Linked DNA regions of Homo sapiens. The protein of the gene in region 3 purifies or fractionates together with the protein of the main gene of each other region. This does not show direct contact. Each region holds a gene or a part of one and is shown on either strand. Other genes may lie near its edges. The genes, in order: NPEPL1, LTV1, PFKP, OXSR1, ALDH16A1, ARFIP1 and BCAR3.

The links.
Region 1: the proteins of PFKP (region 3) and NPEPL1 fractionate together in Homo sapiens (co-fractionation; one large-scale study listed by BioGRID). This does not show direct contact.
Region 2: the proteins of PFKP (region 3) and LTV1 fractionate together in Homo sapiens (co-fractionation; one large-scale study listed by BioGRID). This does not show direct contact.
Region 4: the proteins of PFKP (region 3) and OXSR1 fractionate together in Homo sapiens (co-fractionation; one large-scale study listed by BioGRID). This does not show direct contact.
Region 5: the proteins of PFKP (region 3) and ALDH16A1 fractionate together in Homo sapiens (co-fractionation; one large-scale study listed by BioGRID). This does not show direct contact.
Region 6: the proteins of PFKP (region 3) and ARFIP1 fractionate together in Homo sapiens (co-fractionation; one large-scale study listed by BioGRID). This does not show direct contact.
Region 7: the proteins of PFKP (region 3) and BCAR3 purify together in Homo sapiens (co-immunoprecipitation; one large-scale study listed by IntAct). This does not show direct contact.

What each region holds. Positions count from the first base shown.
Region 1 is NC_000020.11:58,705,738-58,710,214, reverse strand, and holds part of NPEPL1 (probable aminopeptidase NPEPL1), read right to left. Parts: intron 3,093-4,477; coding exon 3,015-3,092; intron 1-3,014. UniProt on the Homo sapiens protein: Probably catalyzes the removal of unsubstituted N-terminal amino acids from various peptides.
Region 2 is NC_000006.12:143,845,904-143,850,380, forward strand, and holds part of LTV1 (protein LTV1 homolog), read left to right. Parts: intron 1-147; coding exon 148-321; intron 322-4,227; coding exon 4,228-4,315; intron 4,316-4,477. UniProt on the Homo sapiens protein: Essential for ribosome biogenesis.
Region 3 is NC_000010.11:3,073,404-3,077,880, reverse strand, and holds part of PFKP (ATP-dependent 6-phosphofructokinase, platelet type), read right to left. Parts: intron 1-4,477. UniProt on the Homo sapiens protein: Catalyzes the phosphorylation of D-fructose 6-phosphate to fructose 1,6-bisphosphate by ATP, the first committing step of glycolysis.
Region 4 is NC_000003.12:38,252,537-38,255,984, reverse strand, and holds the end of OXSR1 (serine/threonine-protein kinase OSR1), read right to left. Parts: intron 3,169-3,448; coding exon 3,094-3,168; 3' UTR 501-3,093; downstream 1-500. UniProt on the Homo sapiens protein: Effector serine/threonine-protein kinase component of the WNK-SPAK/OSR1 kinase cascade, which is involved in various processes, such as ion transport, response to hypertonic stress and blood pressure.
Region 5 is NC_000019.10:49,466,341-49,470,817, reverse strand, and holds part of ALDH16A1 (aldehyde dehydrogenase family 16 member A1), read right to left. Parts: intron 2,438-4,477; coding exon 2,252-2,437; intron 1,955-2,251; coding exon 1,832-1,954; intron 513-1,831; coding exon 351-512; 3' UTR 1-350.
Region 6 is NC_000004.12:152,781,980-152,786,456, reverse strand, and holds part of ARFIP1 (arfaptin-1), read right to left. Parts: intron 1-4,477. UniProt on the Homo sapiens protein: Plays a role in controlling biogenesis of secretory granules at the trans-Golgi network. Mechanistically, binds ARF-GTP at the neck of a growing secretory granule precursor and forms a protective scaffold.
Region 7 is NC_000001.11:93,678,589-93,683,707, forward strand, and holds the start of BCAR3 (breast cancer anti-estrogen resistance protein 3), read right to left. Parts: upstream 3,250-5,119; 5' UTR 3,010-3,249; exon of another isoform or gene 2,937-3,009; intron 2,783-2,936; exon of another isoform or gene 2,519-2,782; intron 2,267-2,518; exon of another isoform or gene 2,211-2,266; intron 1,662-2,210; exon of another isoform or gene 1,641-1,661; coding exon of another isoform or gene 1,616-1,640; intron 1-1,615. UniProt on the Homo sapiens protein: Acts as an adapter protein downstream of several growth factor receptors to promote cell proliferation, migration, and redistribution of actin fibers.

The DNA.
Region 1 (4,477 bases), on a different chromosome or scaffold from region 3:
AAAAATACAAAAATTAGCCAAGGGTGGTGGCACATGCCTGTAATCTCAGCTACTCTGGAGGCTGAGGCAGGAGAATCACTTAAACCTGGGAGGCGTTGCAGTGAGCCGAGATCGCACCACTGCACACCAGCCTGGGCAACAGAGCAAGACACCATCTCGGGGAAAAAAAAAAAAAAAAAAAAGCCACAAACAATTCCTCAACACCCTTCACCCAGATTCTGCCAATGTCAGCATCTTGTCCAGCCATGGGACAATGGGCAGCAGGGGGTAGTAATCACCAACACAGGACCATCACCTCTCGGGACCATCCAGATTCCATGTGCTCCTCAGACGTCCAGATCAGATCAGACCACACATCAAGCCTGGCCTGCTTGCCCTCCTTAATCTGGGCGACTGCATAGTCTGGCTTTGTCTTTTGTGGCCTTGGCACTTTCAGTGCTGGGTTTGTCTGACGTGTCCTTGTGACTACAGGCAGGCCATGCATTTTTGGTGGGAATCCTGCAGAAATGCTCTGTCCTTCCCTGTACACTGCCTCTGGAGGCATGTCAGGTGGCTCTGTCCCTGCCCTGGTGACATGCCCTGGGACACCTGGTTAGGCTGGGTTGTGAGTGTCACCACTATAAAGCTGCGAGAGGCACTCTGAGAGCATTTGACTGTCCTCTTCCCATCCCACTCTCATGCTCCAGTTCCAGCACTGTGGGCCACTCTCACCTGGAATGAAGCCTGGCTGTGGGGTGACGACTTCCTGTTTCCATCACTACCTCTGCAGCCTGAAACTGGGATTCAGTGTGAGAAACGGTTCTCCCCCATTCATTTATTCCTTCAGTGATCTATTCCTACCAGTGTGGACACGTGGATGCTGATTTTATTCTCTGGGTAAATGCATTACCCTGAGGATTGATTCTGTGGCTCAGACAGAGGCGTATTCCTTTCTAAGAGGCCAACAAGGATATGTGAAGGCCAAGCAGGACATTCGCGTTCACAGTGGAGCCTCCAGGCTGGAGCTCTTGTGGGAGGGGGATCTTTGTCCAGAGTGGGGGTGGGGTGTCCTCAGCACCCCTCAAATCTAGAGGTGCTCCTCCACCTCTAGAGGCCGCAGCACCTCTAGAGGTGGAGGAGTGCTGAGAACACTCACGGCTGCTGCCTGATGAATCTGTGATCATTTGTCAAGTGGCTTCCTGTGAACAGGGAATTCAAGCTCAGAAGAGTCTTCCTGCTGGGGCATTCCCAGCCAGCCTGTCCCAGAGGCAGGACAGACCCTCTGTTGGAGGAGTAACCAGGGGTGAACGGCAAAGACGGCCACAGAGGGCTGGCCACACGGCTCCTCCAGAACCACTTGCCCACCCCTGCCCCCGTGCCACCCCAGAGCAGCAACTGCTCCCTTCAGAGAGAGCTGCCCAGCGAGCACCGCACAGCTGGGCCCGTCCGCCTCAGCATTCTTCTGGTGAGCCCATCTGCCAAAGCCACGGGGCCTGGGCAGAGGCAAGGAGGAGGGCCAGGTAGTGGGAGCCCAGAGCCACCCTGCCCCGTGGCCTATGATGCTGGGGCAGTCAAGACCCTCCTTGAGTGCCAGCCGTGTCCCTTGGTAGTTTATAACCAGTGAAGGAGTAGCGCACAGAGGACACATGCTCCTCCTCCAGCCTCTTCCGACAGGCTCTGCAGTGGACGGGCCACGGCAGGTGCTCATGGAGGCATGGGGCTTGCAGGCTGCGTACAGCCCCAGCTGTGTGCTCAGCACGAGAGAAACAGCCGTGAGCCCTAAGAGGCCGTTTCCAAACCCGTGCAGAGCACAGGTGAGGGCCTGCCAGCCCCTCCTGCCCAGGCCGCCTCAGCCCCGCACCTCCGTGTCCCCACCGGCTGGGCCTGGTAGCAGAAGCCCGTCACACAGTCTGGAATGTGCACGGCCAGCTGGGAAGCCCCGGCAGAAGGAGCTCCTTCCTCCTGGGATTCCTCCTCCTCCCTCACGGCCAGGAGCAGGACCCTCCAGATTGGAAACTACTTGCCAAGGCCTTTTTGTTTTTCCATTTCAAGTTTACCCCAAGGAACTGGGTTGCTGGCCTGAGAAAGGTAGGCTAGGAAGGTAAAACCTCGGCTGATGAGTCAATGCACACTCCTCATTGGCCTGTTTCTTTAGACAGGGTCTCGCTCTATCTCCCAGGCTGCAGTGCAGCAGTGGGATCTTAGCTCACTGCAGCCTCAACCTCCCGGGCTCAATCGATCCTCCGCCACCTCAGCCTCCCAAGTAGCTGAGACTACAGGTGCGCGCCACCACGCCTGGCTAGTTTTTAAATTTTTTTTTATAGAAACGGGGTCTTGCAAGGTTGCTATGGGTAGTCTTGAATTTCTGGCTTTCAAGCCATCCTCCTGCCTCCGCCTCCCAAAGTTCTGGGATTACCAGCATGAGCTGGCCTCTTCATTTGTTTAATAAGCACTTTTTATGGCCCCAGGGACATCTGGGCTCCATGGGAAGGTCACTCAAGGTCACCCCCCACCCCCCCCACGCCCCCCGAGTGACTACTGCCACTGAGCAAGGGCTAAGCATTGGGGCACCTGCCCACGCAAGAGAGGAAGGGGGCCTGGCCAGGCCTGGGGGTTGGAGGTGGTGACTTGGTGAGACCAGTCACCAGAGGCAGCTCTGCTGCAAAGAAGGGTTGCGGGAGGGGTACGCAGAACAACGTGTGCCCCTGCCATGAGCTTCTGCCTGCCACATGCCATGAGGGTCTAGGCCAGGCTTCCTCATTGAGCCAACCGCTCATGGGGCTCTGGAGCCAAGGCAGGCCCTGAGCAGAGAACATGGCTGCACCTTGCCCTCGGGGCCTCCCAGAGCAGCTCTGATGAAGGCGGGAAGCTCTGGGGGCCCCAGAAGAGCCTGGGGGCAGAGGGGGGACAAGCATCCGCTGGGGAGACTCGGGTAGGACCCTGGTGGGGCCTGTGGCGGGACGGACAGGGGAGAGGGGAGCACCCACGAGGCACACCCAGGATGCCCCTGCAGAGGGCGGGCAGGGCCCACTCACCTGCTTGATTGCGGCTCTGAAGGCCCCCAGGACGGCCGCAGCACCCCCGCAGTCTCGCTTCATCCCCGGCATGGTAGTCTGCGGGTGGTACAAAGGGACCAGGACAAAGGTGAGCTGTGAGGTCCAGGCCTGGCAGCGGAAGCCCCCCACCCCCACCCGGCCCCACGCTAGCCCCACCTTCCCCAGCTCTCAGGCCTGGGCAGCCCCCACACCAGGCCTCCTGGGCACCCACAGAACTCATGAACCTCATATTGGCCAAGTGGGGTGTTCTCCAGAAGCAACAGGGAGTCATGGCCATAGATGGTGAGGCTCCCTTTTGTTTTGACAGAACTTTGGGGTTATCAAACAGTAACTGCACGGAGGGGGAACCCGAGGAGATGCCCGGAGCTGCAGAATTCGCTGTGGCCGGGCTCTGACATTGAAACAGGGACCCCGTGCTTTGACGCCGGGCACCCTGACCTCAGTCCCGGGCTGCCACGCCGCCTGGGGGTCTGTCTGCAGGGCCACTCTCTCCACTCCTCCGCACAGCGTGAGAAGGAAGCTGAGGTCCAGGGAGCCTCTGGGGCTTGCTGGAGGTCCCTGGCCAGCACCTCAGGGACCTGGGTGGGCTTGCGTGCTTCCTGCACCCATTGCAGATTCCTAGTGTGCTTATGGCAGGGAGGAAGCCTGAGGGGCTGCTGCCGCAATGCAAACCTGCCCTGGCCACCTGTCGCCCCCCAGAACAGGGCCTAGCTTCCTCTCCCTGGCACTTAGAGGGCTTTACCACCTAACGAGACTTAGGCTCAGCATTCTCTGCCCCTCATCACAACCTTGAATGATGGTGAGGGTTGATGTGAACTCTTCGCCAAAATCAGTCACATCCACCCCCACTGACACCACCAGCAGTGAGGACACCTGTCGCTCCTTCATGTCACTGCCAGGTCTATCGCCAGAAGAAGGGGCCACCTCTGCCCTCCTGCTAGTTCACACCTCCTGGTTAATAGTTCACACCTCCTGGTTAACCTGGGTCTAAAGAGGGGCCACCCTTCTCCTGCAGTGTCCACACTGTTTCCTATACGCTGGTTGACAGTGTTACACATTTTTACATTTTACAGGTTCCCAAATCAAATTCACAAGTTCATATTTTAAATTAACAGCAGGTCCTCAGAGGTAAAGGTTTGGGTATGAAATTTACTGAATCATTTTTGAACCCTTATCTTATTACACAAGCTTTGAATTTTAGTGCAAAGTATTTTTAGATGTAAATTGAGCTGCTTTTATAATTGAGTGAAAATGACCCATCTTGTACTACTGAAAATAAGCCATCTCTTCTGAGCTAATCTGTTTGAGAAAGCACAGGATTGTTTAAATGGAAAAACAGGGCCTCCGATCTGGAATCAAACCATGTGCAAAATGGGTCACACAGCAATGCCTGGAAACGGCTGCTCACTGTACACCATGTCTCCCCCGTCACAGCTGCCAGC
Region 2 (4,477 bases), on a different chromosome or scaffold from region 3:
CATCAGCCAAAATGTTCATGTGCCATCTGCCTCCTACTTGGAAAGCTGTACTCATTGTAATATTCCCATGCCTTATCCTTGGAAGGCTTACTGATTCCATTTTGTTTATAGATAGTGAAGAAAGTACTAATTCCATTTCGTTTATAGATAGACAATGAAGAAAGGCGAGCAGAACAGAGGAAGTATGGAGTGTTCTTTGATGACGACTATGACTACCTGCAGCACCTGAAGGAACCATCTGGGCCTTCAGAGCTTATTCCCTCAAGTACCTTCAGTGCACACAACAGGAGAGAGGAGAAAGAAGAAACGCTAGTAATTCCAGTAAGGCTTTTCAGCAATTTAATTGTGGGAGTGAGGTGAAGAAATCATTTTTGAATCAAGATATCTGTTTGGGGCAAGAAATGGTGTCCGTATGAAGAGCACAAAGATAGACCACGCCTCCACTTAAAATTATATATGTGTATGCATGTGTATACCATCAGGAGAGAATAGGTCACGTCTTCTCTGGTGGCAGGTGTCAACAGTAACAGCCTTTTTATAGGTTCAGAACTTTTGATTGATAGACATGGCCATGTTAGACAGCACTTTTCAATAGGAGAAAAGCAGCTGACATTCTACATGTTAACAACATAACTGTTTTCAGGATCATAAACTCTTGTTCTAAGATAGGACTTAACTTTTGTGGAATATTCAGATCTTTAACACTTTTGTAAAAGCTGCAGGCTACTCATAAGCAAACAGAATGAGTGGATGATAATAACATTCCTGTCTTGTAAACAAATGTTCGGTCCACTTTAATACCTTCTCTTTCAGGACAAATGATAGTACGTGTTTATAAGAAATTAGTGCTGTTAGTCTAAGTTCTGTTTTCTCCCCTGTTTATGTTAAGAATGCCCATGTTGTATGCCTCCGTGACCTTATTTTTAATTTGATGTAGAGTAAATTTTCCTGTGGGAAACTTTTATATCACCTAGCACTTTAAAAAAAGGAGACATTCATTAGGTTTATAAGCAAAAGGTAAGAGATAGAAAGGGCACCAGTTTACCCTGCTCCTCATTCCCCAATTCTGTCATGGTCTAGGCATTCCTTTCCTTGGGGAAGATGTGATTGTAGTTCTTATAGGCAATAGCTTGTTGCTTAAGGAGACTCAGAAAGGTTAGGTTTCAGGATACCATCCCAAAGAAAGGTAATAACTGCAGCTGCTCGTTCACTAAGTAGGTTGTGGCTCTTTTGTAACGCCCCAAATCCCACCACATCTCTGTCATAGAGAACCAACTTCTTTATTCCTTCTTCCTCAAGGCTTTATTGGTAGTAGGGACTTATTGGCTCACTTGCTTCTATAACCTATTGAAGGAGAGAAGGGGTTCCTTAGTGGCTCAACTTGTTTATCTAAGGGAGAAAATTCTTAGTAAAGTCTTGCCTGGCTTGTATTGACCAGTACAAGACTAACTTTTGTTGTTGTTGTTATTGTTGTTGAGACGGAGTTTTGCTCCTGTTGCCCAGGCTGGAGTGCAGTGGCACGATCTCGGCTCACCGCAACCTCCGCCTCCCGGGTTCAAGCGATTCTCCTGCCTCAGCCTCCCTAGAAGCTGGGATTGCAGGCATGTGGCACTGTGCCCGGCTAATTTTGTATTTTTAGTAGAGCCGGGGTTTCTCCGTGTTGGTCAGGCTGGTCTTGAACTCCCGACTTCAGGTGATCTGCCTGCCTCGGCCTCCCAAAGTGCTGGGATTACAGGCGTGAGCCACCGCGCCCGGTCGTATAAGACTAACTTTTAATCCTTAATTCATTTTGAGTAAAAGCAATCACTAATTGGCTTTTTAACAGGATAAGGCTCTTAAATGGACACTTCAGTGACCTTTGCAGGGACAGCTGAATTGTATTTAAAAACAGAAGTGTGGTTGGTTTTCTGAAGAGCTATGAAAAAATATGGATTAGTCCCATATACTTTTTTTACTTTAATTTGTAACACACCACCAAATTCGAGTAGATTAGAAATAATGAATAACCCCTAGAAACAGTGTAAGACAGTGTAAAAAGGCAGTATAGAAATGATTGATGCTTGAGCAGGCCCTGATTTTGACATGAAAGAAAGATGGTGGTGCTGTTGTGGAAAGTAGCTGGGCAAATGTCATGTAGTTGAGAACTACTGCAACCAATGAAAACACAGCACTCCTCTAAAAACAGAGTAATTTCTCTTTAAACTCTTAATCGTGTATGTGATTGACTACTTTTCAAGATTTGAAAAATATCTCACAAAGGTAAATTCATTTAACACAAACTGACCTTGTGTTTAACCCCAAACTTCTAAGGATAAATATCACAAAGGTACCTTTTTAAAAACCTAAAAGACTATGTAGATTTTACTACAATTTTAAGTAATTAATAATGTAATATCCTTAAAAAACATTAAATTGTACACTTTAGGTGAATTGTATGTGAATGATGTCTTAGTAAAGCTGTTTTCTTAAAAATATACTCTACAGCAAAATAACATCTTTGCCCATGTTTGTGCTACTGAGAAACTCATTTTGGAAGCCATAACATCTTGCTGTGTGTACACTGCCATATGTAGCCTTTACTCATGCTCCTCAGAGGCTTCCAATTCAGAGAGCTTTCTCAGTGAGCCAATGAGGATGCACATTCCAGCTTTGTGCCTCCTCCTGGGCTGAGGATAGGGCAGGTGGTGAGGTGCACAGAGATAAATAACACATGGCGGTTGTCCTCACGTTATGAACTGTTTGGTCAAGGAGAGGAAACAAGCATAAGAACCAGTCAGAGAATGTAGGCTAGCAAGCACATGTTTGAGTAGATTGCAGCGTGTGAAGAAGGCGGGAAGTTCACACAAAGGGAAGTTCTAGGACAGTGATCAGAAAGGGCTTCATGTCGGAGGGTAGGAACCGAGCTGGCCACCAAGTGGTGGGTACTGTTGACAGGAGAAGGAACATTTTCAGTCAGGCTGCCGAGACAGTGAGCACTGTGGTTCCGTGTCAGGCACATGCGCGCCAAGTAAAGTGTTTTGCATTATTACATGACTGAGGAATGAACTTGATTTGCATGGTCATATAGAATAACTGAGAAATTTGGATACACAGAGTAGGCCTTGATTTTATAGGTCCTTGAGAACCAGGGCCTTAAATACAGAGTGAAAAATTGAGACCTGTCAGAAACTCAAGAAGGTCACATGAAAAACTATTAAAGGAGCTTAATCTCGCCATGGGTATGAAGGTTGTAGTAGATATAGACTAGCTATATGAGCGGTTGCAGTCATTTATGTTTTGGTTAACTATAAATGAGGTGATGCCCCAAAGAATAGAGTGAAATCACTGTATGTAAGAGATTTCAAGGGGACATAGGACAGAGCAAAATGATTTATAACCACCCGAGGATTTAAGATTGCCAATTCATACAAGGGCTGTGCCATTACTAGAGATTAGGACATTATCTCTAGTTTAAGAGGAAAATGTTTAATTTTGGTTTGAAATTTCAGGCAAGTGGAGTTAAGAAACTCTGGGATTTGAATCCCAGAATCTCACTTACTGATCATTCTCAGGCAGGTGGGCCATTTAAACTTTCCTAGTTTTTGTTCTTTTGGTAAAACATGGTGATACCTCATGGGATCTGAGGGATAAATGGAATAATTTGCTAGAGAAGGCATTGTGATGTATTATAGAGAGTTACTTTTGGGTTTATGATGGAATATACATGTTTAACATATATACAACCTGGAGCACAGGTGAGAGAACACAGAATGTAGTTGTAATAGTTTCCTAGGACTGCAGTAACAAATTACCACAAACTAGGTGACTTAAAACAACAGAAATTTCTTCCTTCATGGTTCTGGAGGTCAGAAGTTTGAGATGAAGGTATCAGCAGGTTTGGTTTTTTTCTTGGGGGCTTAGAGGGAGAGGCTGTTGAATGGCTCATTCCTAACTTCCGAAGGTTACCGGTGATCATTCCTTGGAATTCCTTGCCTTATAGAGGCCTCACTCCAGTCTGCTGTCATCTGCACATGGCATTCTCCCCTGTGAGTCTCTGTCTTCATGTGGTCTCGTTATAGGACCATGGTCCAGTAAGACCTCATCTTATTATAGTTGAGAGGACCCTATTTCAAATATGGTCAGTCTAAGGTTCTGGATGGACATTGATTTGGGGGGGACTTCAACCCGGTACACTAGTTAAGAAGAATTTCCAAATAAACCTAACCATTGTGCAATTTCTTTTTCAAGAGCACTGGAATTAAGTTGCCTTCATCAGTGTTTGCTTCAGAGTTTGAGGAAGATGTTGGATTGTTAAATAAAGCAGCTCCAGTTTCAGGTATTTTTAATTGCTTTATCTTTTCATATGGATAAATGTATTTTGCAAAACATAAAGAAATGATGTAGGATTTTTCTATCCCCAGTAAAGTATTGAAACAATTGAGATATGTCTGGAATTCAGATCAGGGATTATTAGGAAGGGATGAATGTGATCTTTGTA
Region 3 (4,477 bases):
AGATAATGAGGGAGCGGTTTCATAGGAAAGATCTGGTCATTACTCTGACCAATTATTAAATCGCTTTCTTCATATGCCGTACTTTTTAACAGCTTCTTACTAAACCACAATGCAGGTAAGAGAGTCACAGGACGGTTTCTTCCTTGAGTCAGAGTCATCCTTGGCCTACACCAGGGCCTAGCAAGCATGACTTAAGTCACCCTTATTTCCTGGCTACTTGGAGGAGCTGGATTTCCCAGTTTACAAATCTCAGTTTCCTGGGATTCTGCTCTGATAAAATCTAAATTGCATTTTTTTTTTAAAAAGTAAGGAATAGGCCAGGCACGATGCCTCATGCCTGTAATCCCAGCACTTTGGGAGGCCAAGGTGGGCGGATCACGAGGTCAGGAGATCGAGACCATCCTGGCTAACAGGGTGAAACCCCATCTCTACTAAAAATACAAAAAAAAAAATTAGCCGGGCATGGTGGTGAGCGCCTGCAGTCCCAGCTACTTGGGAGGCTGAGGCAGGAGAATCGCTTGAACCCGGGAGGTGGAGGTTGCAGTGAGCCGAGATTGCGCCACTACACTCCAGCCTGGTGACAGAGTGAGATTCCATCTCAAAAAAAAAAAAAAAAAAAGAAAAAAAAAAAGTAAAGAATAGATGAACTCTAATGAAATAATCTGGGTCTATCTTTTACCTCCTCCATTGTCTGGAGTAATAAAGCTCCCTGCCTCGCCCTCTCTCACAGCACTGAGCCACTTTTCCTGAATTTTCCCACACTCCTGATCACTCACTTGTTAATTTCAATGCATAAATTCTTTTTGAGAAATAAAGTCAGTTTGCCGACTCCTCCCGCTGCTTTGTTAGAAAATGAGCTTACACCGCGCTGATCTCACTACTGCTGCCAAAGTTCCTTCTAGGGGTCTTTCCTTTGATAATGTAGGGATTATGTAGGCATGGGGAGGTGGGATGCCAAAGGCAGATTCTGTCAAGGTGCTGTTCCCTCCCCACCCCTGCCAGTTCAAAGTCATCGAACTGGGGGGCCTCTCTGACCTCCTGGACTGTGCAGACCACCGTGTCTTCTAGTAGGGTCAGGGGAGGGCTTGAGATAAATCTGTAGGGCTCTTCACTCAACCACCAACCCACTGTCCAGCTCGGGTGCCCCAAGTGCCACCTCTGCTGGGCTCTGTGTGGATGCATCAGTGACAAGATGGGAAGCCTCTGGCCCTGGAAGAGCTTGTTCCGATCAGGAGAGACCCGAAAGCAAGAAACACAGTGAACAAATGCATGATGCCCATGGATGGATGGCCGTAAGTGCTAAGGAGAAAAATAACAAGCGGGGTGGGGGGTGTTGAGGGTGTGGAGGACAGGGAGGGGCTGCCATTGACAATCGGAGAGCCTGCAGACCTGCCTGAGAGTGACGTTTGGAGAAAGAAGGAAAGGGAAGAAGTTGAGGGAGTTTAGCCAAATGGACATCTGGGAAAGAGCTCAGGTAGCAGAGGGGCTGGGGCGGGGGCGCGGCGGCAGCATGCTGCATTCCAGGGTCCTCTGCGTGGCTGGGACAGTGTCGGCCCTCCCCTGCACATCCCTCAGAGCCTTCGCAAAAACACCCACATGGGGACCTTCTAAATACAGGCAGCACACGCCACCCATTGCGTGACCACACTGTCCCTCAGAGGAGCCGCTGGCCACGTGCGTCCCGTCCACATGGAGATGTGCTTTAAGCTTCTTTACACACTGGGTTTCAAAGACTTACTACGGAAAACAGTGTAAAATATGAATAATCTACAATAATTGATTGTTATCAAAATAGTGGATTGAATATAAAACATAGTTTTTTGCTTTTACCGGTTTTTACTTTTTTTTTTTTTTTTTTTTTTTGAGACGGAGTCTCGCTCTGTCGCCCAGGCCGGACTGCGGACTGCAGTGGCGCGATCTCGGCTCACTGCAAGCTCCGCTTCCCGGGTTCACTACTTTTTTTTTTTTTTTTTTTTGCGATAGGGTCTCACTCTGTTGCCCAGGCTGGAGTGAACTGGTGCAGTCACAGCTCACTGCGGCCTCCAACTCCTGGGCTCAGGCAATCCTCCCACCTCAATCTCCCACGGGGCTGGGACTGTAGGTGTGCACCGCCACGCCTGACTAATTGTTTTGTATTTTTTGTAGAGACTAGGTCTTGCCATGTTGCCCAGGCTGGCCTCAAACTCCTGGGCTCAAGTGATCCACCTGCCTTGGGCTCCTGAAGGGCTGGGATTACAGATGTTGAGTCTTGGCACCCAGAGTCCCCCACTCCCGGCCCCCTGCCCCGCCTTTCTTTAATGCGGCAACTAGATCATTTAAAATTGCATATATAACACAGGCCACCCACATGCAAGCCTCACTCTTGGGAGATTCTCCCGTTGGAGAAACCTCCAAGAAGCTGATCTGCCTGGATTTGCAAACTGCCCCACTGGCTCCAGAGGGAAGCCGCTCTGGAATCGGCTCTTCAATACTGCCCTTGAGTATACTGTGTACCTCTTGACTTTCGACCAGCACAAAGCTCCTTATTAAACGCTGACAAAAATTCCTTCCATTCTGTTGGGAGCAGGCCCCCCCAAATCTGGCCATAAACTGACCCTAAAACTGGCCATAAACAAAATCTCTGCAGCACTGTGACACGTTCATAACGGCCCTAACGCCCAGGCTGGAAGGTTGTGGGTTTATGGGAATGAGGGCAAGGAGCACCTGGCCCACCCAGGGTGGAAAACTGCTTAAAGGCATTCTTAAGCCACAAGCAGTAGCATGAGATATGTGCCTTAAGGACATGCTCCTGCTGCAGTTAACTAGCCCAACCTATTCCTTTAATTTGGCCCATCCCTTCATTTCCCATAAGGGATACTTTTAGTTAATTTGATATCTGTAGAAACAATGCTGATGACTGGCTTGCTGTTAATAAACACGTGGGTAAATCTCTGTTCTGGGCTCTCGGCTCTGAAGGCTGTGAGACCACGGATTTCCCACTTCACACCTCTATTTGTGTGTGTGTGTCTTTAATTCCTCTAGCGCCGCTGGGTTACGGTCTCCCCGACTGAGCTGGTCTCGGCACATTCCAGGTGCCATAATGGAATTAATTAATCTCCTATTGATAGTTTTTTGCTGGTTTTCCCACTTTTTGCTATTCTAAGCACTGCTATGAAGATTCTCCTTTAACCCCCACCTGCCTGTGTCTGTTGGAGCTCACATGCTCTACCTTCCAGCTGTAACAGCTGAGTGCCCATTCACCCCAAGCCCTGACACACTCAAGTCTCTGGGTCCCCTTGGCGGGATGTGTCTGTGGACACAGGGCTGCCCTGCCACGTGCCCCACCCCATAACCTTCCATCTGTGGCCTGCTCCTTGTGATACCCTAAACTTGTGGCCTCCCCTCCCCTCCTCTCCTCTCCACAAAGCCACCCTTATCGGAGACAGTCAGTCTGCTTCCCTCCACCTGCTTCCCAGTTCACCCAAGGCAAAGCCAAAGTCCTCCACTGGGCCACTCTCCTCTACGGACTCCTCCCTCACTGTCAGGTCAGGTCAAAGGGCCCCAACCAGAGGTTCCCCTGGGCCCTTTCATAAGACAGGAGCTTTTCCTCTCAGGTCAGGCTACAGGCACGTCGTACCCGCACCTCACCACAGGAGTGACAGCTCCAGGCAGAAAGGGCCTGGTTCTTTTGCCAAAATCCTGTCCTGACTCACCCAAGGCAGTCTGTTAACATGCACAATGATTACAGAAACACAGAAATAAGGCTGGGTGCAGTGGCTCCAGCCTGTAATACCAGCACTTTGGGAGGCCAAGGCAGGTGGATCACTTGAGGTCAGGAGTTCGAGACCAGCCTGACCAACACGGTGAAACCCATCTCTACTAACGATACAAAAAAGATCAGGTGAGCATGGTGGCGCATGCCTGTAATCCCAGCTACTTGGGAGGCTGGGACAGGAAAATCGCTTGAACTCAGGAGGCGGAGGTTGCAGTGAGCCGACATCAAGCCACTGCACTCCAGGCTGGGCAAGAGGGCAAGATCCCGTCTCAAAAACAAACAAACAAACAAACAAAAAAAACACACACACACACAGAAATAAAATCTTAATCGTAGTAAGACACAGCTGAAAAGATATGAAGGACTGACTCCCCGAGGCTACTGCATGCCACCCTTTCAATCATTTTCCATTCAGGAAACTTCGGATCAGATCATTTACATATGTACGTTTAGACAAGGGGTCCTATATTAATGAATCTTCTCTGTCAAAATCCTGGTCAAAGTCAGAAAACAATCCCATGGGACTCCTGGGAGCATCTCACATTGGGGAAACCTGGAGAAGTGGAGAAGCTGATCTGCCCGATTTGCAAACCGCTCCACTGGCCCCAGGGGGTCCAGCAGCACCGGTGCCCTCCCCGTGAGAGTCGGAGCCTCACTCAGACCCACACAGTCAGGATCTACACCTCCGCAGGCTCCCCTAGGCATCTCTGGGCACACGGAGGC
Region 4 (3,448 bases), on a different chromosome or scaffold from region 3:
GCCACTGCTGTTGGGAAGGGCAGATGATGAGGGAAGATTCCTCCTGCAGTGGGAGGATAACAGGAATACAAAGGAGCCTAGAATCTTACATGTAACTTCACCATTGCAATATCAAAGCCAAGAAGAGATAAGTTCAGCCCTGTTCTGAACTTTCGAAAGAGACTCCCAAGGGCTTGAATCTGGCATCCTTCCTTGCCCAACAGCATAAGCAAAACCAAAGATTTAAAAAAGATCAAAAGATAATAAAAGGAGTTCCATATCCCATCCTATCCAATTCCTTGGGCTGATCTCATCCCTCCCTTTTAGGGTTGCAGTTTCCCCAACTATATAATGGCTTTAATGGTTCTAGATAATTTGTAGATCAACAGACACACTTTACAGTTTATATGTACTTTGGCTTCTATTCGCATGAACAATTAAAGTTGGTGGTGATTCCTTGACCCACAACCCACAGCTCTCCGCCAACGGCCACTAAAATAAAGCGTCCATACACCACTAAGGACAATTTACTCTTTATTGATTAAAAATGAAGAAAACATGCAGTAAAATACAAAGTCCAAAAAAAGGAGGAAAAAGTTGAATATTTTACATCTTCCATAACCTAGCATACATCATAAGGAGGAATCTCCACTTATTGGTACATCATTATTCTCTCCTCCAGATTATTAAATATTATCAGCTGGCTCTAGGATTTGGTTCAAAACTTAAGCAAAAACCCAACAAATCCTTTAGTCGTTTAGAAAGACCAAACATTTCACAAATAGCATTGGCACATATTACTTTGTGCTATAGTTAGTCCCTACTCCAGGGACAAGGGGATCCTGGGACCTAGTCAAAGAGGTGCACTCTGAATCAGCATTCCTAGAAAGGAGTACAGTCACTCACTAGGTTACGTGCTGTTCCACCTGGGCAGTTTCTGTTCATGTATTTTCTCAGTATCACTGCACAAGCCAGCAAAGGGAGTCTACCACACATCATGCAGAAGAAGTAACACTGTCCTGGGACATGGTGTCTGTCTTCTAATTCCTAGCAGGGCAAACAATGAACTGAAAAGAAGGAGAAACCCCAGCCCAATTCTATTTGCCATGACTGCCCCACTGCAGTTCACAGGTAATGATGGGCTAGAGAAAGTGAACAGGGGATGGGCTGCTGCTCACTCCCAGCTAGGCACCAGACCATCTCCACAAAGAATGCTAGAACAGAGTGATGCTGCCACCCCTTGGATTCATAAATAAGTAGATTTTGATGGGTTTGAAAAAAAAAAAACAAAACTCTAAGGTAAGCGGTAAGCCACTAGTCTTGTGCCAAAGAAGATGCTATCTCTTTTCTATACCTCATTCCTACCTCCCCATCCTTGTTCCTCTCCGTCCCCCCTCCACAAAAAAAGAAAAAGAAAAGCTAAGTATTTTTCTAGCAAGCTGGTCAATCTTCTTTTCTCCCTCCTGGCTCAGCAGGCTCCCTCCTTTTACCAAGACTGCTGGGACGTTGAACTCCGGTGTCTGATCATCTCACCTACTCTCCTCCTAACTCCCAACTGAAATCCATCTCCTCTCTTCCTCCCCAACATCCATCTCTTTCCCAACATGCCTTTGCACCTAGAGCAGGTGAAGAAAGCCCATGACTAAAACTAAAGACTCAGAATGAAACAAAAGGTGTGACAAGTTATTTGTGGGGAAGGTTTTCAGATATGTTCCAAGAGAAAATAAGGTAAAACAACCTTGTTCATCAGACCAACAGTGCTGGAAAGGGCTCGAGTGATTCTGTAAAGGGCAACTCTCCCCCTTTCCAGGGACCCACAGCCCATCTTTGTGTATCTTTTTAAGGCCAGATTGAGTATCCCACTCATATATAAAACTCGGTAGGGTTACTAGCAGTTAGACAAAGACTATGAAACGGTAGGAAAAAAGAAAAATCAACCTCACTGATTATTCACATATTGCATTATGAGTGCTCTTTTTTAAACCTAAAGAATAATTTATATTATTTCTGTAGAAAATCAAATGAACACTGTCTACTCATAAAACCTAAAGGTCACGGCACATGTGGTTTCACTTTCCATCTTGAGTTAGCTTCAGCACACAGAGACCCCCTCCAAAGGGTCAGTGCAGGAGAGCAGGCAGAAGGCAGGCCTCTCTGGCCCAGTGTGTGTCTCCTTTATTGCTGTAGAAATCTCAGCCTTGCATACCCATTTCCTCACGACTTGGAGGCCAGGCGAACTGATTTTCATGGGAGGATTGAGTTTTTCTTCAATTTGATATTTGAAAATAAATACTTCTCCAATGATATGAATTATGATTTTCCTGTTCAAAAACCACCTCTGGCAAAATTCACATTTACAAGCCATTACTCGATGTTGTCTGTAAAAACAATCCAAAGTTCCACTTTGAAGGATCTGATGGCTGAAGTTCGGCTACAGTCAGATGTTTTGCACCAGCTGAAGTTAAGGCTAGCAACCCTTTCTGGAGAGAGCAATGAAGAAGGGGGTGCCTGAGAGCAGCTTCAGCAAAACGCTTAGAAACACCATGAACAAAACAAGAACACAGTTTAGGCTGCCTCCATCTGAGGCTGTGCTTTTTCCTAACAAAGGTTGCTAGAATTCACATCAGGTACAAAGAAAAAACATTAAATTAAATTCTCTGGGCTCCAGCTGAACAATCAATTCTACTTCAGTGGTAAAGAGATATCCCAAGATGTCCATATCCTGGCAGGTGTGGGGGAACAGGCAGGATGAGGAAGCCCGATACAGCTGCTACTTTTCCACCTGGGCCATCATTGGAGTAAGGCAAGAATGAGCTGACAGATCTCCCTCCTGGGCCTTGAAGCACATGGGCCACTTCTCAGATGGAGGAAGACAGGGGACATATGAAGTAAGTTTACTAACGGAACTCTGGGGATGCTGGCCACTAGTGATCCAACTTTTCTTTCCCTGTGGGAAAAGGAGGAATGATGGCAGGAAGAACATAAAGACTTCTAAAGCTCCTAGCCGGGAGGTTTGTTGCTGGGTTCTTTGGCAGTAGTGGGTTTAGGCCAATAGAAGCAACAGAGATACGCATGTGTGGAATCTCCTTAGGCCGCCTCTTCCAGGGTTGTGGTTTAGCTGATGCTGAGCTGGGCAAATCCTATCAGTTTACCATCATCAGGAATATCTGAGCCTTCGACACCAGATGCCTAAGAACCAAACAAAATGAGAAACTGTGATTATTTATAAACAAACTTGCAGGTAGCAAATAAAACAGACATGGGATAGTGGGAAGGTAGGCAGTGGGCAACAGGTCCCTAGGATACAAATAGGAGACTGACGAAGGTGTTTATTCCAGAAAAGAGGGGGGCTGGGTAAACAGCTAGAGTCAGACTGGCTAATAGTTTCTCTTATGAATAGCCAAGGGTCTCTGGGGTCAGAGGTTTCCTGGCATGGACAGAGGAAGAGTGGCCACTCAAAGGGAAACAT
Region 5 (4,477 bases), on a different chromosome or scaffold from region 3:
CTCGAGCCAGGTGTGGTGGTGCATGTCTGTGGCCCCAGCTACATATGAGGCTGAGGCATGAGGATCCCTTGAGCCCCAGAGGTCGAGGCTGCAGTGGGCCGAGATTGTGCCACTGCGCTCCAGCCTGGGTGACAGAGCCAGACGTTGTCTCAAAAAAAAAAAAAAAAAAGAAAAAAGCCTCATATCTGCCAGAAGTTGCTACACCCTTTCTTCTCGCAGAAGCACAGCTAGGGTTGGTCAGAGAGTTTATTGGGAGACACAGGAACCAGAAGGGGAAAGTCCCAGGTGTCTGTGGGGTGCATCTCCCCTTGGTGTGAGGTGTCCAAAATGCAGTAGGTGGCGCTCAGGCATCAGTCCCCCATAGGCAGCCACAGGGCCTTGGTCCGCGCCACTCGCAGCCCCAGCTCTGGGCCTGCCCCCTCGGCCTCCTGGTCCCAGGCCCGCGGGCAGCCCCTGCTCGCCCACACCGGTTTGAGGTTTCCTGCCGAGGCCCACTCGACAAACTGGGAACCCTGAGGGGAGGAAGAGACGGGGGTAAGCACTTCTGCAGGCTTGTTGCTGAGCACCTGCTTCCTCCGCGATGAAGACTGTTACTGACGAGGGGCTTCAGGCTGGACCCAGGCTCTGCAGCTACAATGCCCAGCTCCTCCCAAGCAGAACTTCCAGATGGTAGGGAAAAGCACTGGACCCAGTGGTTAGGGAATTTCCTCTCCCTTAACAGCCCATGTTGAAAGGAATGGGCCCCAAGGCTCTTGTCAACAAGTTCACATCTGTTACCAACAGGAGGTTTAAGAGAGTGGACGGTGGGGCGCGGTGACTCGCTCCTGTAATCCCAGCACTTGGGGTGGCTGAGGCGGGAGGATCGCTTGAGTTCAGGAGTTTGAGACCAGCCTGGACAATATGGCGAGACCCCGTCTCCATTTAAAAAGTAAAAATTGGTTGGGCACAGTGGCTCACGCCTGTAATCTCAGCATTTTGGGAGGCTGAGGCAGGCAGATCACGCGAGGTCAGGAGTTCGAGACCAGCCTGGCCAATATGGCGAAACCCCATCTCTACTAAAAAAAAACCCCCAACAATTAGCTGGGCATGGCGGTGAGTGCCTGTAGTCTCAGCTACTTGGGAGGCAGGAGAATCACTTGAACCCGGGAGGCAGAGGTTGCAGTGAGCCAAGATCGTGCCACTGTATTCCAGCCTGGGCGACAGAGTGAGACTCTGTCTCAAAAAAAATAAAATAAAATAAAATAAAATAAAAAAAAAAACAGTAGACTCAACCAGTTGTGCTGGCTCACACCTGTAATCCCAGCACTTTGAGAGGCCGAGGCGGGCAGATCACTTGAGCCCAGGAGTTCAAGATCAGCCTGGCCAACATAGAGAAACCCCAGTCTCTGCAAAAGAAAAAAATTAGCTGGGCATGGTGGTGCACGCCTGTGGTCCCAGCTACTCAGGAAGCTGAGGTGGGACGGTGGCTTGAGCCTGGGAGGTTGCGGCTGCAGTGAGGTATGATTGCATCTGGGTGACAGGGTGAGGTTCTGTCTCAAAATAGAAAAACAAAGCGTAGACTGTGGGCCTCCAAATCTAGGGTGTGGTCCTTAGCAACGGGCTGTCCCCTGAGACGAGGTCTTTGGGCTAGGCAGCTCTCAGGCCCCTGTTGCTAAGGACAGCCTCTTCCTTAGTAACTTGAGTCCTAAGGGCGGGGCCTCAAAACCTTCTTGTCAAGGAGTTTCTCCCCTTACCAACAGGAGTTCTAAGAGGGCGGGGCTGTGTTTCCAGAAAAGGAGGAGCCTGTTTGAAGTTTGAGATGCTGAAGATGGCAAAACAGAACAAAGAGCACCTGGGCTGATCCGAAATACCACATGGCCTGGACGTCTTGGTGCAAGGCCAGGCAGCGGGTCAGATGGTCCCGGTCTCCTGTCACCACGTTGGCCAGGCCTGCTGGGAACACGGTGGCCATGTCCTAGGGGATAGAGAGAGTGAAAGGTTGGGGAGGCCGTGGGGGCAGGGCAAGGAGTGGGCATTCAGGGGGTGCCCATGGGAGGGAAGGGGATGGGGGGTCATGGAGGAGAAAGCCCCAGGCCTAGGGTGAAGAATGGGCACTGGGTCCCCAAGGAGTGAAGGTTTGGGTGCTGGGGCTGGGGGCAGCATGGGTACCACGGAGGGTGGGGTAAGAGACAAGCTCCTGCCGACTTTGGGGCGCCTTTTTCTGCTGCCCTGAGGCTACGGGGAGGAGAGGCAGGAAGGCAGGGGGCTATACCTGGCAGACCTCCAGGGCCAGCAGAGGACAGGCCGCACTGGGCACCATGACCACAGTGTTGCCGTAGGCCAGGGCGGGAGCCAGCAGGGACACGAAGGCAAGCAGGGGCCACTCGTCCGGACACACCACAGCCAGCACACCCAGCGGCTCCCGCAGGCGCAGCACAGGGCCTCTCAGCCCGGCTACCTGCAGGGACAGGTGGGTCACGTGTGGGGCAGGGGAGCCCCGCCCGCAGTAAATGAGAGATCCAGTTCCTCTACATTCTCCCCAACACTTGGTGTTGGCCCAAACCGCACCATTGTGGAAGCCCCTGCCATTTCGCAGACGCTGGTCAAAGTGAATCATTCCACGGGGGTTCGGGCGGTGAGAAACATCCTGCATAACCGCCTTTCTTTTTTTTTTTTTTTGAGACGGACTCTCACTCTGTCGCCCTGGCTAGAGTGCAGTGGTGCGATCTTGGCTCACTGCAACCTCCGCCTCCCGGGTTCACGCCATTCTCCTGCCTCAGTCTCCTGAGTAGCTGAGACTACAGGCACCTGCCACCATGCCCGGCTAATTTTTTTTTTTTGTATATTTAGTAGAGACGGGGTTTCACTGTGTTAGCCAGGATGGTCTCGATCTCTTGACCTTGTGATCTGCCCACCTTGGCCTCGCAAAGTGCTGAGATTACAGGCGTGAGCCACTGCGCCTGGTCTATTTTCTTTTGTTAAAAATAAATATGGTGTTGGGGGGTGGGAGGCAAGGGGAGGGAACTTAGAGGGCAGGTCAATAGGTGCAGCAAACCACCATGGCACGTGTATCCCTATGTAACAAGCCTGCGCGTTCTGCACATGTATCCCAGAACTAAAGTAAAATAAAATTTAAAAAAAAGAAGGCCGGGTGTAGTGGCTCACACCTGTAATCCCAGCACTTTGGGAGGCCAAGGTGGGCGGATCACGAGGTCAGGAGATCGAGACCATCCTAACATGGTGAAACCCTGTCTCTACTAAATATACAAAAAAAAAATTAGCCGGGTGTGGTGGTGGGCACCTGTAGTCCCAGCCACTCGGAAGGCTGGGGCAGGAGAATGGCGTGAACCTGGGATGCAGAGGTTGCAGTGAGCCGAGATTGCGCCACTGCACTCCAGCCTGGGCGACAGAGCGAGACTCTGTCTCAAAAAAAAAAAAAAAAGAAAGAAAGAAATATGGTTTGGCCCATGATATAGTTCAGATGTCCCACCCAAATCTCATGTTGAAATGTAATCCCTGGCCAGGCGCAGTGGCTCACGCCTATAATCCCAGCACTTTGGGAGGTCAAGACAGGCGGATCACTTGAAGCTAGGAGTTCAAGATCAGCCTGGGCAACATGGCGAGTCTCTTGTCTCTGCAAAAATACAAAAACACCCAGTCATGTGTGCTGGTGTGTGCCTGTGATCCCAGATACTCAGGAGGCTGAGGTGGGGGGCTCACTTGGACCTCGGAGGTTGAGGCTGCAGTGAGCCATGATTGTGGCACTGCACTCCAGCCGGGTGCCAGAGGGAGACTGGTGCCAACATGCCCAGCTAATTTATCTATTTTTTGTGGAGACAGGGTTTCACTGTGTTGCCCAGGCTGGTTTCAAACTCCTGGCCTCAAGCGATCCACCCACTTTTGCCTCCCAAAGTGCTAGGATTACAGGCGTGAGCCACCATGTCTGGCCAGGTATTTTTTGTTTTTTGTTTTTTTTTGTGACACAAGGTCTCACTCTGTCACTCAGGCTGGAGTGCAGTGGCACGATCTCGGCTCACTGCAACCACTGCCTCCTGGGTTCAAGCAATTTTCCTGCCTCAGCCTCCTAAGTAGCTGGGACTATAGGTGCCCACCACCGTACCCAGCTAATTTTTTGTATTTTTAGTAGAGACCAGGTTTCACCGTGTTGCCCAGGCTGGTCTCGATCTCCTGACCTCGTGATCCGCCTGCCTCAGCCTCGCGAAGTACTGGGATTACAGGCGTGAGCCACTGCGCCCCCAGGTGTTTCTTTACAGCAATGTGAGAACCGCCTAACAGCCCACTAAATTGATTTTAGGGTCCAGGAATGGGTCGCTATCCATCATCTGGCGAACGCTACTCTACGAGGCGGGTTGTGTGCCCACTCACTGTACAGATGAGGGAACTGAGGTAGGGAGAGGTGAAGCCACTTGCTGATGATCCTGCCGTGGAAGGCGGTGGGGCTGGGCCCGAATTCCAAGCCTGGGTTATCTCACAGCCT
Region 6 (4,477 bases), on a different chromosome or scaffold from region 3:
CAGGGAGAGGGAATTAAGGATCACTTCTAGTTTTCTGGATTTTACAATGAAAAGATAATTGTGTCATTCACTGAAAAAAGGAACAAAGAAAGAACCAACGTTGTGCAGTTTTGTAGGGAGGGAAGGGGAAATCAGTTTCATTTTAGACATACTGGATTTGAGATACCTTTAAGATATTCAAGAAAGGATGTCAACAAGACAGCAAGACATACAGATCTACAGCTCAAAGCAGACAGAAAACACTCATGCCCTTAATGAAGCTGACATCTTTATCCTAGAAAAGCAGCTAACTATAATCCCCAAATATCCAAGAAAAATGTTAGACTTAGACTTTGACCATCTGGATTTAGTTAAAACAAAAAGCTGAGAGAGAACATGGCAATAACATTTCATCAGCTAAAACAAAAACTGCTAGGCACCATGGGTAGCAGATTTTTAAACTCGTGGTTCAACAATATAGGAATTATGTATCACATCATATCATGTCGCATTTTAAAGTTTTATCAGGGCTGGCCAATGTTGTTGGAAATGTTCTAAATTTGCACTGTCCAATAAAGTAGCCACCAGCCACATATGATACTGACACTGAAATGTGGCTGGTACAATGAGGAACTGAATCTTTTATTGTATTTAATTTTAACTAACTTAAATAGCTACATGTGGCTAGCATCCCTGGCATTAGACAGTGCAGGTTTACAGCTTTCTCATATATTTCATCTGATTCCCCAATACCTACTTTTCAAATTAACTGGGAGAGAGGTGTGGTGGGTGGAGAGATTAGAGGAATAGAAAAAACATCCTTTCCATTTTCTGCTTATTACTTGAATCTTTATTTCAAGAATTTATAATACTTATGCTGGATGCAGTGGTTCATGCCTGTTATCCCAGCACTTTGGGAGGCCAAGGCGGGAAGATCGCTTGAGCCCAGGAGTTCAAGACCACCCTGGGCAATATATAGCACTGAAACAAAACAGATAAGGTCCTGGCCATTTTAGAGATTACAGATCACGGGCTTAAACCCAGGGGCTCTTTCCACTGAGGGTATAAATTCCTGATCCATCCCTTTTTAGGTATGTGACCCTGGACAAAGCACTTTACCTAAATCTCAATTTCTTTATTTCTAATGTGGTGATGTTATCTGCTCTACCTATTTGGTATGGCTGGAGTAAAAATAAAATGAGGATGTATGTGAAAGTGCTTTGTAAATTATTACATGCTAAACAAACAGAAGGTATTAAACAGAGTAACATATTCCTTTTCTCTAGGGCAAAGATTTCCAAACAGTGTGCCAAGAATGGATTACAGATGTGCTGAAATTGTGACCCATTCCCCCACTCCACAGCTTCCAAGGAACCAAGGAGGGCCTGGCTCTAGTCTGCCATACAATTATAATCATTTTTTATGTGTGCCATGATGAGTATCTCAGGCTAGCAGAAACTGGAGTTGGCGAACTGACTCCCTCCTCTGGAAGATTTAGGGCTTACCACTAACTCTGCTGCTTTTATGATCCTGTTCCAAAGGCAGTATGTCACTGTTCCCCAGGGACCAATGAGGCTCAAGCTTCAACATCAAGGAGCTGCTAGTCCAATGCTATCACAGATATACAAAAATAAAATATAAATTCTTATCTTAGGTGAGAACATGGTAAAGACACTGCCATATTTTCACAAAAGATTTGAGCAATTGCCTGTTTTGCAACTACCTTCAGATCCCCAAATCTTTGTCTTTCAAGAGAGGATCTGATTTTTTCCAAATACCCAAAGTTATTCAGATTCTGGTGACTGAGGTCACGAAGTGACGAAGCCAGGCAAGAACTTCATTTTTGTATGTCTCAATCTGAACCGACAGTCATACTAGAAGAAGATTTCAAAGCAGATTGCCTACTCTGAAAAACAGCATTCACTTAAATAAGTATGTTCATTAAGGGAAAAAAGTGTATTTCATAAAGAGACTTTATATTCCTTTTTCAGGAACAACTAAAGGTTTGAGCAACACCTGCCTATGCCCATCCTAAGACAAAGGCTTAGAAGGAATGGAGGAGAATGGAATGAGAGATGGGAGAAAGAGGAGAATAGGAATAAAGGAAAAAGAAAAAGAAAATAAATACTTTTGTCTCATAAAGAATATCTGTTAATCTGCAAGAGCCATTCGGCAGCTTCCATGACTGCCAAAAGCTACTAAAGATCAAGGAAAACAAAATTATTTTCAGGCCAATAGTCTTTTTCATACATCCAGAAGTAGTGCTACATATCTGACTTTTAGATTGTCATGATCCTAAGTCATCAACTTCCATATTAAGTGGAACAACTCACTTTCCATTCTGTACAAATATTTTAGTTTTTCATCCATAACCATATTAAAGTTTCCTGTTTAATTTACTCCTTCTTCCATTCTGAATTTATTCTTTCCATCCCAAATGTATTATTCTAAAATTTATTTATACTTCCAGACTCTTACAATGCCCAGTTTATTACTTATAATCTTCATTTTCACATTTTCCCCTCCTCATATACACACACACCATCTGCTTATTATTTGAATCTTCATTTCAAGAATTTATAATACTTACAATTCTTTATTTCAAGTAGGTGTGTGTGTTCTAACACACACACACACACACACCAGAGACTTATATCCATCCCCATAGGAAACCCCTACCAACTGCCTCCACCAAATTCACTTTTTTGTCAAACTTCTCAGTATGATATTCAACCAGATGTTCATCCACTGAAGATTAAGAAAGGAAACAACCTTTTCTCAACACCTGATAGAAAGTCAGGTGATATATCTCCAACTCATTTCAAAAAGGACATAATGGACGCATGGTAGAAGTTGTCTACAGTAGTAGTCTAGAGTCAGACAACGTAGGTGGAGCCATGCACTGGCTCCACCAGCGCAATTCTGAGCAGACTACTTTAGCTTCAGTTAATCATTCAGCTTTATTTTCTTCACCTACAGAAATGAGGACTTTAGCCACTTTATAAGGTTATCATTTGAGATAATAATGTAAAGCACTTAGCTTAATGCACATGGTAAGCAAATAAATGTAACTGTTACAGTGTTAGATATAAAATATCTTCCGAATTTGTCATTACCTTAAAAGGAAACTAATTTAGCATAAGCTAGTCTGTTGTTGATGTTGTTTTTGAGATGGAGTCTCACTCTGTTGGCCAGGCTGGAGTGAAGTGGTGGGATCTTGGCTTACTGCAGCCTCCGCCTCCTGGGTTCAAGCGATTCTCCTGCCTCAGCCCCTCCCAAGTAGCTGGGACTACAGGCATGCAACACACACCCGGCTAATTTTTTTATTTTTAGGAGAGATGGGGTTTCACCATGTTGGCCAGGTTTTGAACTCCTGACATCAAGTGATCCACCCGCCACAGCCTCCCAAAGTGTTGGGATTACAGGTGTGAGGCACCGTGCCCAGCCTAGCATACGCTATTCTCTATAAACTTATGTTGACTGCTCCCCCAAGTGAGGTTGCTAGACAGAGGAAAACTTATTCTGTGAGCAGAAGAAACTGGATACTCATGATAGACTATGATGAGCTGTATAGGTCTCTTCAAGTTAACATTCTAAAAAAAAAAGTATCAGACCTTTAGAACTGCAACCCTCAATCAACAAATAATTCACAACCAAATCAGTAAGTTCAAATATGTACTCTAAAACTTACATTAAGCTTGGAAGGATACTAACGTATTCACAAGAGAGAAACAATCATTAAAATATCTCATACAGAATGGAGGGAAAGGGGATGTCAAGATAAGCAACAACATTCCAAAGGACCACACCACTGAAACATCTTGTTTGTTTTTCATAGCAAAGCCAAATCAAATCCTAAGGTACATGCCTCAAGCAAAAAAAATTAAGAAAATGAAAGCAAAATACAACTAGAATTTAAATTTTTTACTCTGAACTGTGCCTAGTTGGTTGGTGATATTTAATACATATTAAAGATAGGCACATCAGTTTGTAAATCCACTGGATCTCCAGAGCATGGACCACAAACAGCTATCCCTAAGAAGAAACCTCAAAACCACAAATCAGGAAATAAAGTGGGCAGCCTCATTTCCTTCTGTAAGTCTAGGAAGGAATTTAGAAACACTAATGTTTTAAAGGAGAGATTTCAATATCAAACTAGAAGAATCCCTGCATTCTCCTTTCCTTGGTCCCAAAGCAAACAATTTACAGTTTGGGAAAACACACACACACACACACACACACACACACACACACCCCTACCTGTTTTCACTAACTTCAACAAGACACTGCCTAAGTGGTGGTTTTAATCTATCAAGAAGCTATATATCTCCTTTGCACAGTTTGGGAAAGCACACACACATACACACCTGTTTTCACTAACTTCAACAAGATACTGCCTAAGTGGAAAACACACACACACATACACACACAAAACCTGTTTTCACTAACTTCAACAAGACACTGCCTAAGTGGTGGTTTTAATCTATCAAGAGGCTGT
Region 7 (5,119 bases), on a different chromosome or scaffold from region 3:
GCTCCTGCTCTCATGGAGGAATCCAACCTATACAAACAAGAAAATGAGTTAACATCCAAGTTGTAAGCACGCTAAGGAATATAAACAGGATGAACTGACAAAGGATGACTGTTGCGGGTGGAGAGCTACTTTACATTAGGGTGGACTGGGAAGGCCTCTCTGAAAAGGTAACAATGACATGAGACCTGAAAAAAGGCAAGGGAAGGAGCCAGTCAAAAAAAGGTCTGAAGGGGGTTCCAGGCAAGGGATCTGGCAAATGCAAAGGTCTTGCCATAGGAACAAGCGGTTGGAATGACAGCTGATGGAGACTAAACCCAAGTCTCCAGCCTCTGGCTCCCATGTTTTCTCCACTTGGAAATATTTCTGTCTCAATGTCCCTAGTCATTATATACTTCTTATGTACCATTTGATTTTTTAAAAATAAAATGGTATGACTCAGAACCTAGGCTTTGGAGGCAGATATCTACAGGTTCAAATCTCTACTCTGCCACTGACTTACCAGCTGTATGGCCTGGGACAAGTTACTCAACCTGACGGTTTCTCATTTTAAAAAATGACTTAACAGCTATTTCATAAGATTGTTGTAAAGATTAAAAGTGATTGTGTATACAAAGTTCTTGAAATACTGCAAACACTTAGTAAATAGCAGGTCCCCTCTAAGCAGGACAGGGGCTGCTCTTATCTATCTTGTCAGATAAGAGTCACTGTATCTCTGTTATACTGAGGGTTCACAAAGGAAGTAACTCTGAGAGTTCACAAATGAAGACTGCAACTGGGAAGGATGGGGAGGGAAACGTTTTAACCTAGAACAATAGATGCAAAGACACCAAGCCAAGTAGGACATGGACACGGACACAGACACAGACACACGTACAGGCAAACCAAGTGAGCCTACATGCAGTCTTTAGAAAAAAGCCCAGGTGAGACTCTGGCCATCTGACTTCTCTCTACTGTGCAGGAAAACAAACACAATGTCCTGACTCAGTCTAATGCCAGATTTTGAAATATTATACAAAAGTCAAAGACTCTGCATCTTGATATGAAAATCTGAGACTCATGTGAACATCAGGAACAAGAGCGAGGCTGACAAACTTTACCACATGTGCTGCCTTCCTGGGCCTGGTCAGTCGCTGGGCTTTGAAATGTTTGTGAACTGAGGCCCAACTCACTTGCTTTACAATGATGTCTCAAAGAAACTGATGATCTTGCAAGCTGAGGCAGAGATAAGCAGCCCACTTGTTTGGATTTTACTCTTTTATTTCTGAAACGGGATATTTTCAAGTTTAACTCATAATGGTTATCTGATGTGAGCTTTAAGAACTTTTCATTATATTTTAAACTCTGGAAATGTAACCGTCTCGGCTGCCCCATGACAGAGAATTTACAACTTGGATCTGTAGTTTTATAACTTCTCTGGAGAGTCAGATGGAGAGAGGAGATGAAACAACCACACATATTCAATTGGCTTATCCACTTAAAATGAAGTTTTGCTTGGGTTTAGGAATTAAGAGTATCTCTTTATTTTTGAAGTAAACTTATGAAGTCTAGCCAAATGATTCAAGTATGAATAATTCCTCCATGGATTGTATTTCAAGCAACACAGTACAGGATTTACCCGATAAGGTTCTTAAGATTAGCATCCATTTGACAAGCAGTTCTGCCTATATGAACAGGAGATTTAGACCTTGGTTAGTCATCCTGGAAATGCCAGCCTTCTCAGCAGCACTTTAGAGAAAGTTGGAGTTGGAGTGGTGTGGGATCCCCTGGCTTGGCAAGGTCTTTACGTTATCCTCAATACCCCCTGGCACGCCCGCAGACAAGCGCTTTGCCTGTGGGCTTCCCATTGTTACCCGGGTAGCCCCTTCCCACTTGGACCTGTGTTGAGCTGGGCCCCACCCCCAGCACTGAGGCCTCTCCCAGCCTCCAGGATCTCAACTCAGTCCCAGGCAACACAAGGGAGGCTATCAGCTCCCAAAATGACCTTCCCTCGGCCAGCGTACTTTCCTTGGGGAGGTCTGTGTAGCCTTGGGAGATAAAGTCAAGGTTTAAAACAATCTGAATGCACGGCTCTACTTTCCATCTCAGCTAACAGCTTTAAGCGAAAACAGATATGAGGTTAGGAAAATGGTTTTTCTCCTTTGCACCTTGCTTCAAGCGAGTTAACCCCAACCATGACCCGACCCGCCGCCCCACGGAACACGCCGCCTTGCCAGATGCTTCGGAGTCCGCTCAACCTCCTCCTCGACGAGTGTCTACACCTGATTACACCGTTTTAAAGCGGCGGCGCCCTCAGCGGCCTAAGTGGGTAAGGACAGTTGGGCTGTACGATCTATCGGAACCTCCTTCCCACCGTCCCTCCCTTCCTTTGCCTTCCCTCGCCTCTCCCCACCGCGACGCAGAGGGAGCAACACAACCAACTATTCATTCTTTCTCAACAAAGGGAGAGAGGGAGGGAGATGTTGTCAACAGTTACAGGGCAGGCTCCTTCGCTTTCTTTGCAAACTTCCCAAGAGATTACCGGAGAAACTCGCCTCCTCGGAGCCTTGGGCTTCCACCAGAGCGCTCTGGGCCCTCGCATCTGCCCGACCCCGGCCGGCTTCTGCGAAGAGGGGACGGGCGGGACAGGGCGGGGTGGCCGGCAGAGCAGCTCCGACGGGCAGGGGGTCGGGCGAGGCCAGCGCCCGGGAAGATGCCGCTCGAGTGCCACCGAGCAAGATGCCTGGCCGCCAATCGCTGAGCGCTCCCCGCCGTGGGCCACGTCTCGGGGAGTCCCAGCGCGCTCGGAGGGCCTGGAGAGCGCAAGCCCCAGCCCCACTTCAGTCACCCCCGCCCCCAACGCCAAATCCGCTGGCGGGGGTGGGTAGGGACCAACAAACGCCGGCTCTACTTTCCCCAGAGCCTAACTTTGTCCAACAAACTTCCTAGCGTGTCCTCACCGGGGTGGGGGAGGCCCAGGCGCCCCGGGAGGAACAGCACCCCGAGGACGCTGGGCGCGCGGCGGAGACTCACCTCCCGGCGCGGCGCTGGGCGCTCGGGCTCTCAGGATCTCTGGACCTCCGGCTGGGGCTCAAAGGCGCCGCGCGGCCGGCCTCGCACCGCCCGCGCCGCGGCTGCTCCCGGAGCTGGGGACGCTCATGGTCCGCGGGGCGTGCCCGCCGAGAATCCCGCGCGCGTCTAGCCGGTGCGCCCCGCAGCTCCGGCTCCGGTCCCGGCCCCGTCCCCCGCCCGGCCAGCAGCAGGCGCAGCTCTGAGCCGGCGGCGCGCACTCCGGCCCTCAACTGGTGATTTGCGGCTCCGCGGCCCCACCCCGGCGAGCCGATTCGCGCTGCCTTGCGGAACCCCCCGAGACATTTACATTCGGTGACCTAGCCAGGCCCTCCTCTGCCCGGATTTTAGAGTTTGGCTCTCTTCGTATCTCCCCAAGGAGCCAGTCCTCAAGTATAGCTCGATCACTTCCTTTCTGAAGCTCTCTCCAGAGACAGCCTCGTCGAATCCACTCCTTCCCCTTCCCCGCGTTATTTAATTACCCAACAGATCTGCTTTGCTCGTCTGCAGACACCTGGCTGGCTTTCAATGTGAAGGGCTTTGATGAGACAAAGCCCCAGGTAACCACAAATGAACCATCCACGGGAACAGGCAAATCAATTGCACTCGTATGGACGTATTGAAAGCAAAGTGCGAGTTGGCGGTGGCACTTCAGCACTAGATGATTTGGTGGGGTGAAAAATTGGAGCCCACTGGAAAAGACTTAACACTATCTTATATCAAGATCCATTATAAAGTCATAGAAATAGTAGAAGGATAGACAAACTGACCAATGGAATAAAGTCCAAAAACAGATTTACAATATGTGGTCACTTGATTTATGTCAGGTGCTGCTGTGCTGTATTGGGGGTCAGATTAGCTCTCTCTTTCCAGTAAATGATGCTGGATCAACTGAATCCCCCCATCCCCAGTCAATTCCAGATGGAATTTTTCTTTTCGAGACAGAGTTTCGGTCTTGTTGCCCAAGCTGTTGTGCAACGGCATGATCTTGGCTCACTGCAACCTCCGCCTCCCGGGTTCAAGCAATTATCTTGCCTCAGCTTCCCAAGTAGCTGGGATTACAGGCGCACGCCACTATGCCCGGCTAATTTTTGTATTTTTAGTAGAGACGGGTTCACCATTTTGGTCAGGCTGGTCTCGAACTCCTGACCTCAGGTGATCCACCCACCTCGGCCTCCCAAAGTGCTGGGATTACAGGTGTGAGCCACCGCGCCCGGCCTCCAGATGGATTTTAAAGGTAAAAAGTAAACCAATAACACGATCCAAAGAAAATGTCCAAAAAAATCTTCATTACCTTGGGGTAGACAAAGACGATGTCTTAAACACATGTAGTACTAATATAAAGAAAAAAAACTCATCATTGGACAAGATTAAAATTAAGAGCTTCTGTTCATGAAAAGACACCACGAGTGAAAAGGCAAACCGCAGAGTGAGAAAACATAATTGCAACACATACATCCAAAAAAGGTTTGTTTACAGATATATAAAGAACACCTACGGATCAGCCAGAATAAGGCAGAAAATCCAATTAAAAACAGGCAGAATATTTCAACTGTCCTCAAGAGAGGACAAACAGGCATTTCTCAAAAAAGCCAATAAACATATGGAAAATATCTCAATTTATTAACCATCCCAAAAATGCAAATTGATATTTCAATGTGATCTAACTTCATACCACCCAGAATGACTAAAATTAAAGGGCCTGACCATACTGCTCGTCAAAATGAACTTTTTACAACCACTTTAAAAACCTGCTTGGCATTATCTAGAAAAGCTAAATTAACATGTATCCTATGACCCAGCAATTCCACCCCTAAGTGTGCACCCAACAGAGATGTATACACATATTCACCAAAAGATGTTGAAAAATGTTTATAATGTATCTCTTTATGACGGCCAAAAAGAAAACAACCCAAATGTCCATCAGCAGAAGAGAGATAAACTGTGTAACATACAACATAGTAATAAGAATGCATGAACTCATTTACACTCAACAAGATGAGTGAATCTTACAAATAGGATATTGAGTGAAAGAAGCTGGCCGCAAATGGGTACATACTATATGATTCCATTT